Regions from separate parts of the Homo sapiens genome. Here region 1 is linked to region 2. The links come from fine-mapping of genetic effects on gene expression. A gene starts in region 2. The other region holds a variant in brackets. All regions are shown on one strand. Distances are from middle to middle. Region 1 holds the start of MIR3142HG (MIR3142 host gene). Region 2 holds the start of PTTG1 (PTTG1 regulator of sister chromatid separation, securin).

Evidence for each region. PIP is the estimated chance that this variant, and not a neighbour inherited with it, causes the effect.
Region 1: its variant is fine-mapped to the expression of PTTG1 in whole blood (TOPMed, PIP 0.96).

Annotation. Positions count from the first base shown.
Region 1 is chr5:160,465,459-160,470,958 of GRCh38, forward strand. MIR3142HG (MIR3142 host gene) reads left to right here and starts at 2,793. Exons shown (of 2, transcript NR_132748.1): 1 at 2,793-2,982. RefSeq lists enhancers at 1,737-2,373, 2,374-3,010, 2,478-2,707, 2,738-2,897. The variant A/G (reference allele first, on the strand shown) is at 2,382.
Region 2 is chr5:160,419,305-160,424,546 of GRCh38, forward strand. It overlaps PTTG1 (PTTG1 regulator of sister chromatid separation, securin), which reads left to right and starts at 2,551. Exons shown (of 6, transcript NM_004219.4): 1 at 2,551-2,587; 2 at 2,998-3,099; 3 at 3,405-3,589; 4 at 4,933-5,026. The coding sequence starts at 3,009. RefSeq lists enhancers at 1-108, 119-188, 2,800-3,356 and silencers at 2,386-2,445, 2,546-2,705.

The sequences.
Region 1 (5,500 bases), 46 kb after region 2:
AGAAATGTAGCATAACACTTAGTTGGACTGGGACTCCAAACCAGATAAGACAGTGCTCTTGTCAGCAAAGAAGATTCACATTCCTTCCACACAATTCCTCTCTTTCCAGCATCTTTTTTTTTTTGAGATGGAGTCTCGCTGTGGTCACCCAGGCTGGAGTACAGTGGTGCTGTCTCGGCTCACTGCAACCTCCCCCTCCCAGGTTCAAGCGATTCTCCTGCCTCAGCCTCCTGAGTAGCTGGGATTACAGGCACCCACCACCACACCCGGCTAATTTTTATAATTTTAGTAGAGACGAGATTTCACCATATTGGCCAGGCTGGTCTCAAACTCCTGACCTCAGGTGATCCGCCTGCCTCGGCCTCCCAAAGTGCTGGGATTACAGGCGTGAGCCACCGTGCCAGGGCTTCTTTACTGACTTTTAACTCTAGGAATTTATTTAATTTCTGTGAGTGTCTGTCTTCTGGATTTTTGTCTGTGAAATAGAGACGAATACCCATCTTATCAGCATTAAGTGAGATAATGGTGGTAAAGTGCATAGCACTTTCCCTGGCATGTAATATAAGTTATATAAATGATGTTTAAGCTCTCCTCCACCCTACCCCCCAACAAAATGAAACAAAAATGACACGTATTTTGGTTGTAAAAGGATGAGGCTGAATTCATATATCATCCCTGAAAACCTGCCTCAAGATTTTAGAGTTTATTCCTCCCGAGGCAAAAGGCAGCAGATGGAGGTGCTTGCAGCTGATAGCATATAGCTACTTAAATTCTGGCTCCAAGCATCCACTTTCCTGTTTCTGGAAAACTATACTAATGACCCCCAGGTGTCACAAAGGAGCCCTTAGGAATGCCGAAGTCGAGTTAACTGACTGGAACGGGATAATGTACTTGTTAGCAGAAACCAGCAAGGGTTGAGTTCCTTCTGTTTATTCCATTTGAGTCTAGCCCCCAGTTCATGGATCCAAATAATTTTGGATTTCTTTAAACAGAATTGTCGCTAACTGAATTAGGCAGCTTTTAACCTTTTATAAAAACTTCACAAATAGGTTGCTTACTCCTTAATACAACATGGGATGTGTTAAGAGTGCCCTTAACTCTTCTGGTCACCCTTATGCTTCCTCCCTTCCATCAACCCACCCGGTTTCAGCAGATGCTGGAGTGCTTGAAGGTATGCCCAGAGCCCACTCAGATACCTGGGTCCACCCCAAACCCCCAAGGAACTCCCTTCCAATGGGAGAGAATCTCACACAAGGAAATAGTTTTGATGTGGACCCCTTGAGAGGCAGAGTAATGCAGTGTACCAGGTTCAGAGATTTGGGGACAGGAAACCTCAATTCAAATCCTGGCTCTGATATTTTCTAGCTATGTGAACTCTGGCAAGTTTCGACTCTCTTGGAACCTCGGTTTCCTCATTTCTAATCTAAGAATAGTATCTGCTTTTTAGGGTTCTTAGGAGTATTAAATAAGAACATGTTTTTATGAACAGTGTCTGGTGTATAACAATTGCTCAATAAATATTTGCTTTTAAAAACGTTATCTATAGTAGACGTTCAAACAAACCTTTTGGGAGCTCAGCAAGATAAGCAACAAAAACCTTCAGGGGAGGTCAGGAAAGTGACTACATCTGCCTGGAAGCAAAATCCTTTGAGCTGGTCTTTTTCGGTCCATGAGCACGTGACCAAGGAAAGGAAGCTATATTTTCTCGACTGGGAATTTGAATTTGCAGTTGCACATTCCAAAGGCCTTGTACGTTCTTTCCAGTTTGGGAAAAGGAGCAGCTAAGGGCACCCATGGAAACACTTACTAATTGTGTGACCTTAGGCAAGTCCCCCTAACCTCACCAAAGATAAAATTCCCTTATGAGTAAAAGGGGATCACAAAATGGAGATAATAATTCGGGCTACCTGCTATGGATGATTGCTGTGGGATTAGGGAAGATGATGCACGTGATACATTTAGCAGAGTGCCTGGTGCCTAGTAGGTGCCCATTAAAATTTAGCTATGACTGTTCTCTTTAGCTGACACACAAGACTGCCTTGAATGTTCACATTTCCAGAGAAAGGTGCTCAGGAAGATTTCTCAGTGTTCCGCCTGCCAGGTCAGTTTACAGTTCAAAGAATCCCTTTGTTCAAAGGGTGAGCAAATCCAGGCCTCGTGTATCTGCAGCAATGAAACAAGGGAGCTTTCTGCCTGATCTTCTCCCCAAAGGCAGTCTCTCTTTTTAAATGCCTGCACACATGTTATTTATTTATTTTTGGTTAACGTTTAAATTGAGGTTTTGGCTGAAACTCAGCCTGCGCGCACTTGAAAAGCCAACAGGCTCATTGGGCAGCCGATAAAGCTCTCGGGATTTCCCCGCGGGGCTGCGGAGAGTACAG[A/G]CAGGAAGCCTGGGGACCCAGCGCCTGACCAGAACTTCCTCGGGGGAGGCTGCAGGGGAGCAGGCGCATCCTGCACAGAACGCTCTAGAGCGCGCAGGCCAAAGCACCAGGCTGCTCCTGACACGTGCTGCAAGAGGGTCCCCGACCCGGGGGTCCAGACCCTGCACGCATGATGGGGAAGGTGGAGGCTTCCCCCTCAGCTCCGCGGAGAGAAGCTGACACTGCCAGGCTGGAACCTTCCATTCCGGCCCAGCCTCTTCCTCCCTCGCTGTGCCGAGGAGGGATCTAGAAGGGACTTTCCAGAGAGGGTTAGCGTGCAGGGTGTGGAAATGGAATAAAAGCATATGCAAATAGGCCTTAGCTGCCTTCCTCTACCCCAGCAAATAAGAGTCTCTCCAGAAAGATGCTCTTTCTCCAAGACGCTTGACCGCTCTTCCTTTCCTGGATGGCACCAGCAGGGCCGATTGGAGTGGTAAACCCTGGGCCGGAAGGCATGCCAAAGGGTGGACAGGATGGACAGGAGACAGTAGCACAACGAGGAGGGGGAGAACAGCGGCTGAATTGGAAATGATAAAATAAAATGAAATTTTAGGAGCTCGCTGTGAGTATGAGCTGGGAAAAAATAATCATTGCAAGCTGATTTATTATGTACTTATCTTCTGTTTGAGAGGCAGCAGGCTTTTGTACAGTGGATTATTGCAGAGTAAATGGCACATTAAAGATATAATCAAGATGTTTAAGGCATATTGAAATGACATTAGAATCAAGTAGGTGAGACTTTTGTCATGGTCTAGAAATATAAAAATGTCAGTGACTTGGAGATATTTCCAGTGCTTTAGTAAAGATGTGGCTCCATTTTCAAAAGGGACATATTTTTAACCTTTTGTTATTTTCAGGGTGGGGGGGGATAGAGTGGGGTCAGGAAGTGGTTTAGAATCTCTATGGATGATAAAATAATATGCTTTAAACCTGGAGTTGTAGACTGTGGTCTCTATTTAGCAAGTCATAAACTTTCTTGCAGTGACAATAGCATGAAAATATTGGACAGTAAATATGGTGCTCTTAGGAGGTTTCAGGGTTGGAAGACTATGGCTATTACTTTTTGTTTATTGTGTTCCTATTCTCAATTTCAATCTTGTCTTTGGATAGTAAGAATTTTTTTTAAATTTTCTATTTTTTTAAAAAGAATCTTTTACATACTGAACCTGACTTGTATACTAATTGGCAAACAGTGTCACTTTTCTTTCTTGATGCCTCAATGGGTTTAATTATTGTATTACGGTATTTTCTTGTCATTTGAGACCTTCACATTCAGTGTCCTTTCTTTCTTTTTTTTCTTTTTCTTTTTGAGATGGAGTCTTGCTCCCGGCCTGTCGCCCGGGCTGGAGGGCAGTGGTAAGATCTCGGCTCACTGCAACCTCCGCCTCCTGGGTCCAAGCAATTCTTGTGCCTCAGCCTCGAGAGTAGCTGGGATTACAGATGCGCGCCACAATGCCTGGCTAATTTTTGTATTTTTAGTAGAGACAGGGTTTCGCCACGTTGGCCAGGCTGGTCTTGAACTCCTGACCTCAGGTGATCCGCCCGCTTCGGCCTCCCAAAGTGCAGTGTCCTTTATTTTATTTGTGTGCCCTGGTTCTGCTTTGATTTTGCCCCAAACCCTTCTGAGTGTAGCGCTTTACTGACACTTTATCCCCGTTATTAACAATGGGTTTTTGGACAGAACTGGCTTCTCTTTATTTGTTGTTTTTAAAATCATACTGCTGTCCTTATGCATGGTACTCCTTGGAACAGATAAGCAGCCATACAAGAAGCTCTTTGAGAGAGAGAAGGTGGACTCTGGGGGTCGTGCCGGTTGTTTGGAGTTGTTGGACTGTTAGCTTGTGGAGTGGGTGATGTTTCATCTTCAGGATTCTGTGAGGCCAGGCCTGGGATGCGGGGAGGAGCTGACTGGATGGCTCCTGGTGATGCATTCCTGGGCCCTCTTCTCATCTCTGAATTCCTAGAGTCCCACTTTCTCCAAAGGCCCTGCGGGAATCAGACGCATGCACTTCTTCAGTTCTGTGTAGTTTTAGGTTCTCAGTGGAGGCCTTTGGGCTCAACTTGTAGTAAATATTTGTTTTCTGTGGCTGTCAGCAATCTATAGTCTTGGGTGTGGTCCCTAAAAGCCAGCTTTTGGGCAATTTTTGAACTGCAATGGGGATTCCTCCTTCTGGTTGTTCTACAATCTGGCAAACATTTCTTATTTTGTTCTGGGCTTTAGTCTTATTTAATAACAAGAGAAAATCTTCTATTTTTAACAATAACATGAATTATTTTTATGACTTACACTTTGTAAAGCATTTTTGTCATTTCATGTAATTCTTTCATAAAATTTGTAAGGTTGGTAGAAACAGTAGAATTAGCACATAATGGGAACTTATTAAATATTTGTTAAATGAATGAATTAAATCCATTTGACTGCTAAGGAAATTGAAACTCAAAGAGATCAAGTGATTGATTTAAGGCTCCACTTTCCAGTAGGGACTCACATCTGATTTTTCCCATTCCAGACTGACTCTGATATAATATCTTACATACTATTTGTTACTCTTTCTCCAAGATCTTAGAAAGGTCTTTTGATTCTCTAAGAAAAGATAATAGGACAATGCAAATGCATGGATACACCATCAAAGGGGTGGCTGAGGGCTGTCTACCTCTTTGTATAGTTCTTTCCTAGGTTCCTGACTCCGCTAAAAACTCATATCCTTAAAGATATGACTATTTAGATACATTCCTTGTTGGAGATAAGAACACAAGTTCATTGCTGAATCATGGTGTATATATACAAAAAAAAGAGTGCACAAGTTCATGCTGAGAAAAATGACTATCTTGAATTTTTAATATTTTTTGGAAGTTTGAGCATAAAACTCTGCACATCTCAGGGGAAGTTAATTTCAGAGTTTTGGATGCGGAGCTGAGTATTTTCTCTAGCTTTGTCTCTTGGGGTACTGGAGGGAGTCATGCACTGCCTCCATTTTGGGGTAATCTTGGTGTGTAGCAATCAGCACTCATCTGGCCTACAGTCGTCATTATCAGCTGCCCCCACTGCTGGAGGAAATGTCACCCATATCAGTTCAGAC
Region 2 (5,242 bases):
GCTTTCTTTTAGAATCGGAGAATTTTAGGAAGTTAAAAAAAAAAAAAAAAGACCAGAACAGACAAGAGCTTAAGCCTCACCAGGGGACTATGAAATGAATGGGGAAGTTGGTGACGTATCAGCTTAAAAAAAAAAAAAAAGCAGTTAAACTTGGCACTAATTAGTAGCCAGGCTGTGTAACATGCTGGGGATTTGGTGAACAGTGTCTTCCCTCAGATTTACATCAGAGTGCGAAAGACACCGAAACAACTATTCAGATTTAGCAGCTGTGAAAAGTTGCTATGAAAAGAATACCAGGTGCTGTGAGAACATAAGGCATGTTATCATTAGAAAAAAATACGACAATTTCCATTTTGGAGAAACAGTATCTATGCTATCCCATCCCTTCTTTAAAAGTATACATGTGAAATAAAACACTGGAAAATAAACTAATTTTCGTGGTAGAATTTCTTGTGATTTTTTTTTTTCTTTGTGCTTTCTATTCTGGTTGTTCTCCCCCTCCCCCCCATAACGTGTATCCTTTTTGAATGTAAAAGTAAAAGTAGCTACCATTCCTGCCTCAATAAAATAGCCCAACATAATAGAATCTATTTTTTTCGTATTAAGAATTTGCAATACCTGGAGTTTAGGAACATAAATATTAATTTTGCTTTTACAGGGCAGTAGATGAAGAAACAGTGTCAGAGACTAGCGTGAAAGTGAATAGAGTCTATGAATCACTCAGGCTTTGTTTTTTTCCACTTAAAAATATTCCTGAAATTTGCTTAGGAGTGTTAAGGCCTAATTAGCCAAAACCACCAGGAGAGCGCATCTCGAAGAGGAATCAGAAAGCGCAGGACAAGACAGTTGAATCTTTTCTAAGACTTGAGGTCCCTCTGGAGGGTTCTGAGGAAGGTCTAGGAAAGCCGGGATTGGTTCTGGATGGGTTGCTGTTTGTAAAGAAGGATTGGGAGAAACTGATTAGGGACTAAGTGCTGTTATGAGTGAGGGTGGTTTAGCAATTGAGTATTTCCAGTAATAGGAATAGCAAAGCTGGTCTGAGGGCATCATTAGTAAGAAAACAGTGGTTATTCAGAGAGGGTGGTTATGGTTTACAGCTGCTGCATGACCTTAGGAGAAACAATGCTTTCTGTTGGTGAAAAAAAGAAGACATCCTAAGACAAACCTTGCACCTCAAAACCTCTGTAGATAGAGAATCCCCACTTGGAAGCTATAGGTGTTGTGCAGATTTAGTCTTAAAAATTAACACTTTGAGTGCTGATAATATAATATGATGATGTAAAATTTAGGAGATACAGGAGGAAATAAAGGATGGGGATAAAGGAAAAAGAACAGTGAAGGGACAATAAAGGTATGCATATTTTTCTGTCTTTCCTCTTTTCTTCACCTTAAGTTAGGCTCTTTTCTTATAACCTAGTATAATGTCCAGCATTTAATAGGTATTCAATAAATATTTGTGAATGAATGAATCATTCAATCAATATTGGTCCTGAAATGCCAGGGAAAAAGAGATGATGAACTGGCATATATTGAGAACCATGTCTATGTCAGGTATAGTGTCAAGCCTTTCGTGAAAGAGTAATATGGAATCAACTCCTCTCTCTCAGCTGATCTGCAGCTTAAAATGCATATATGGTGAACTGTGGGAAGCGGAGTTTGAATGACACAGGTCAGCCTTATGTTTTAATTTATATCTTCATCTTGTAGTTGTTCAATGTATTCCATTTTACTATAGAAACAGGAAAAGGTCGTCAACTTTTTCAAGCAAAATTTCTTTTCATATCTGGGAAATTGGAATTCCTTTTTTATATCTTTATTATCTCTCTGATATTCTCTTGCTCCCTGGCCAAGCCCTTCCAGGCAACTTTGGTTAATATATTATTGAGATGTTAGAGGTTTAAAATAAATCACTATCAAAGGATAGAATTTTAAGGGAAGACTAAATTATGTATTCATTAGAATCATAATTTTGTTCCTAAGACAGATTCGTGATGGTATAATAGAAACAGTGTCTTAGCCTGAAGTATTGAGGATAGTCCTAAGATTAGGGAACGATCAGTTCGTTCTTAATCATAAGCATAAGAGAATGACTCAAACGCTGCTGTTTGATCTACCTGTACTTACATTTCTTCTTAATTTTAAATTCTTCTCTGCTAGTATTCTTTAGACCCAACATTGGTTGTTTCCCCTATTTCTTCAATATTTCTATTTATTTTCCATCCTTTTTACAGGGTCATCTAAATAAAAATATCTTAAAGCAATAAACCATTGTTATTGAGTCAGTACCTCAGTCCATGCAGCTTAATAATATGGAGAGCAAAAAAAAAAAGCCTCTCGATTTATTTTTTAATATTACACGATCCTAGTTTTTTCTTCCCAGAAAACGTGCCACAAAGTTTGCAAGAAAGAGCTTTTGGGGCGGAGCCCTGGCTGCTTAGGTCCTTTCCATTGGTTCTACTTGGTGACCACGCCCACGGCCCCGCCTCCTGGGCGGAAGAGCCAATTGGGCCGCGAGTTGTGGTTTAAACCAGGAGTGCGCCGCGTCCGTTCACCGCGGCCTCAGATGAATGCGGCTGTTAAGACCTGCGTGAGTGAATGGGAGGGTCGCGGGTGGTTAGTTGAGCCGGCTCCGGCGGGGAAGGAGGCGGGCTGCGGCTGCGGCTGGGGCTGAAGCTGGGGCTGGGGTTGGGGGACTGCCCGGGGCTTAGATGGCTCCGAGCCCGTTTGAGCGTGGTCTCGGACTGCTAACTGGACCAACGGCAACTGTCTGATGAGTGCCAGCCCCAAACCGCGCGCTGCTCGGGACCTTAGAGCCTCTGACTCAGGCTGGAAGATTTGAGAGCTGGATTAAGTACTTGTTGGCTCACGCCCGTGACTGTTCCGCTGTTTAGCTCTTGTTTTTTGTGTGGACACTCCTAGGATAGAAAGTTTGGTATGTTGCTATACCTTTGCTTCTCCCACCTTCCCCAATATCTAATATGTATTTCTCATTCTTAGAATAATCCAGAATGGCTACTCTGATCTATGTTGATAAGGAAAATGGAGAACCAGGCACCCGTGTGGTTGCTAAGGATGGGCTGAAGCTGGGGTCTGGACCTTGTAAGTATACAAGGCTGCAGTCGGATACACTGGTATTGTGGACGTGGCCTGGAGCTGGACGAGACATTTAGTGTACTTTTTGGGCAATTGGAGTCGTTTGTTATTGGTCCTTTTTCATTTTTAATATCTTAATGAGATGATTTAAGGAAGTTACTGAATCTCTGCTATTAGGCCTATCATAGCCATGCCACTACCAAAAGTGGGGGGTGGGTTTGGGGGTGAGAGGTCAAGTTTATATACACAGTATTTAAGTTGTACAGGTATTTTGCTGCTGGAATATTCTTATGGTAAGACTTTTTCTTCAGCAATCAAAGCCTTAGATGGGAGATCTCAAGTTTCAACACCACGTTTTGGCAAAACGTTCGATGCCCCACCAGCCTTACCTAAAGCTACTAGAAAGGCTTTGGGAACTGTCAACAGAGCTACAGAAAAGTCTGTAAAGACCAAGGGACCCCTCAAACAAAAACAGCCAAGCTTTTCTGCCAAAAAGGTAAGTGTTGGCTATAAAGACACTGTTTAAACACTTAAGCACTTTTGACTCTTAAAATGACTATTGGCATCATCCTACGTAGCTTTCTTCCCTCTGAGTAGAAGGGAAATAGAGGTTAGCAAGCAGAGTAGTGGAGGAGACTCAGATTGTCCTTGTGGACTTCTTGGTACCTTGAGATTGGAAATCTCAGATGCAGCTAATGCATATTTTTGCCTCATGCATATTTTTGCCTCACCTGTCCTTCACTAGTGTCGTGAAACTGGTTGGTGGTGTCTACTTACAGATACATACTGAGAGAGAGGGTGCCTTAAGAGAAACTGGTTGGTGGTATCCACTTACAGATACATACTGAGAGAGAGGGTGCCTTAAGAGGTTCTGTTGCTGCTTTAATAGCACAGGTGCTGCCATTCTCTTAGCCTTCCAGGGCAAGCAGCAGCTTGTTAGGTGACAATTTGCTAGCATGTTGATCTTCGTGTGAGTGTGAGTCACAAGCTACAGGTCTGTGTATCCCAGATGAGAGGACTTTGCTGTGAAAGATGACATTAGCATGTGGATTAACACTTTATTTGAATAACTGTTTTGTTTAATTTGCATTAGGAAACAACTAGTGAATTACATATAGTGCAACTTAGGACAAAGATGTCTTCTTTAAAAAGTGAATTAACTTAAAGAAAAATATTAAATACAGGAATTGCAAAGACATGGCAAAAACAATGAGACACAGAACCGAAGTGTGAGAACCCCATAGGGAATTCTAGGCATGCATATGTGAGGTGAGATAAAGCAGGAACATGCCGGCTTCCATTGTAGCACCCTTCTATAGTAGACTGTAGTAGACCTGTCAACTCCAGACTAGAAGATTGCCCATGGTGTTTATTCTAAAGTCCTTGACAGTGTCTTGCTGCCTCTTACTCAGTGTGTGTATTTGAGGAACACAAACTTGTTTTTAATATTAACCAAGCAAATAATTTAAGGTAACACTTGTGGAAAAAATCACACTCCTATAAGCCAAAAATGGCTTTGATGATTAGCTACTATCCTGGGTGATTCATGCCCATTTTCTCCTCTGTTAGGTTGAATAATTGCATTGATTAGCTCTGAATTAACTGCATTCTTGATCACTTATGCTGACAGGTGCTGGTACTTAAATTTCAGATTTTAACTTTTGAGTCATGCTACTCGAATTACATTTGAATCATATTATTTGAAGTATATTTAGGTGCAATTATGAAAACTAAGGATTATGGCTTCTTAGAAGGCAGCATGAAATTGACAAATTTAAAAACTAATCAGCTAATAAGACTTCCACTGTCACTAACCCATATTTTCTTTGGCTGTTCTAGATGACTGAGAAGACTGTTAAAGCAAAAAGCTCTGTTCCTGCCTCAGATGATGCCTATCCAGAAATAGAAAAATTCTTTCCCTTCAATCCTCTAGGTAGTATCTTTTGCAATTGCGAAAAGTGCTTTTGGCCTTTAGTTTCTTAGTATTCAGCTCAGCTGTAACTTGTTATGAATATAATATATGACCAAAAACTATGATGAGACTGTCTGAATCTGGGTTGCTTTGGACAAGTGTACTTGTTGATGGAATTATTTGCAAGGTATCATCTTAGGTCAGGAGGGGAATAGGAACAAAGATGTAGAAGACATT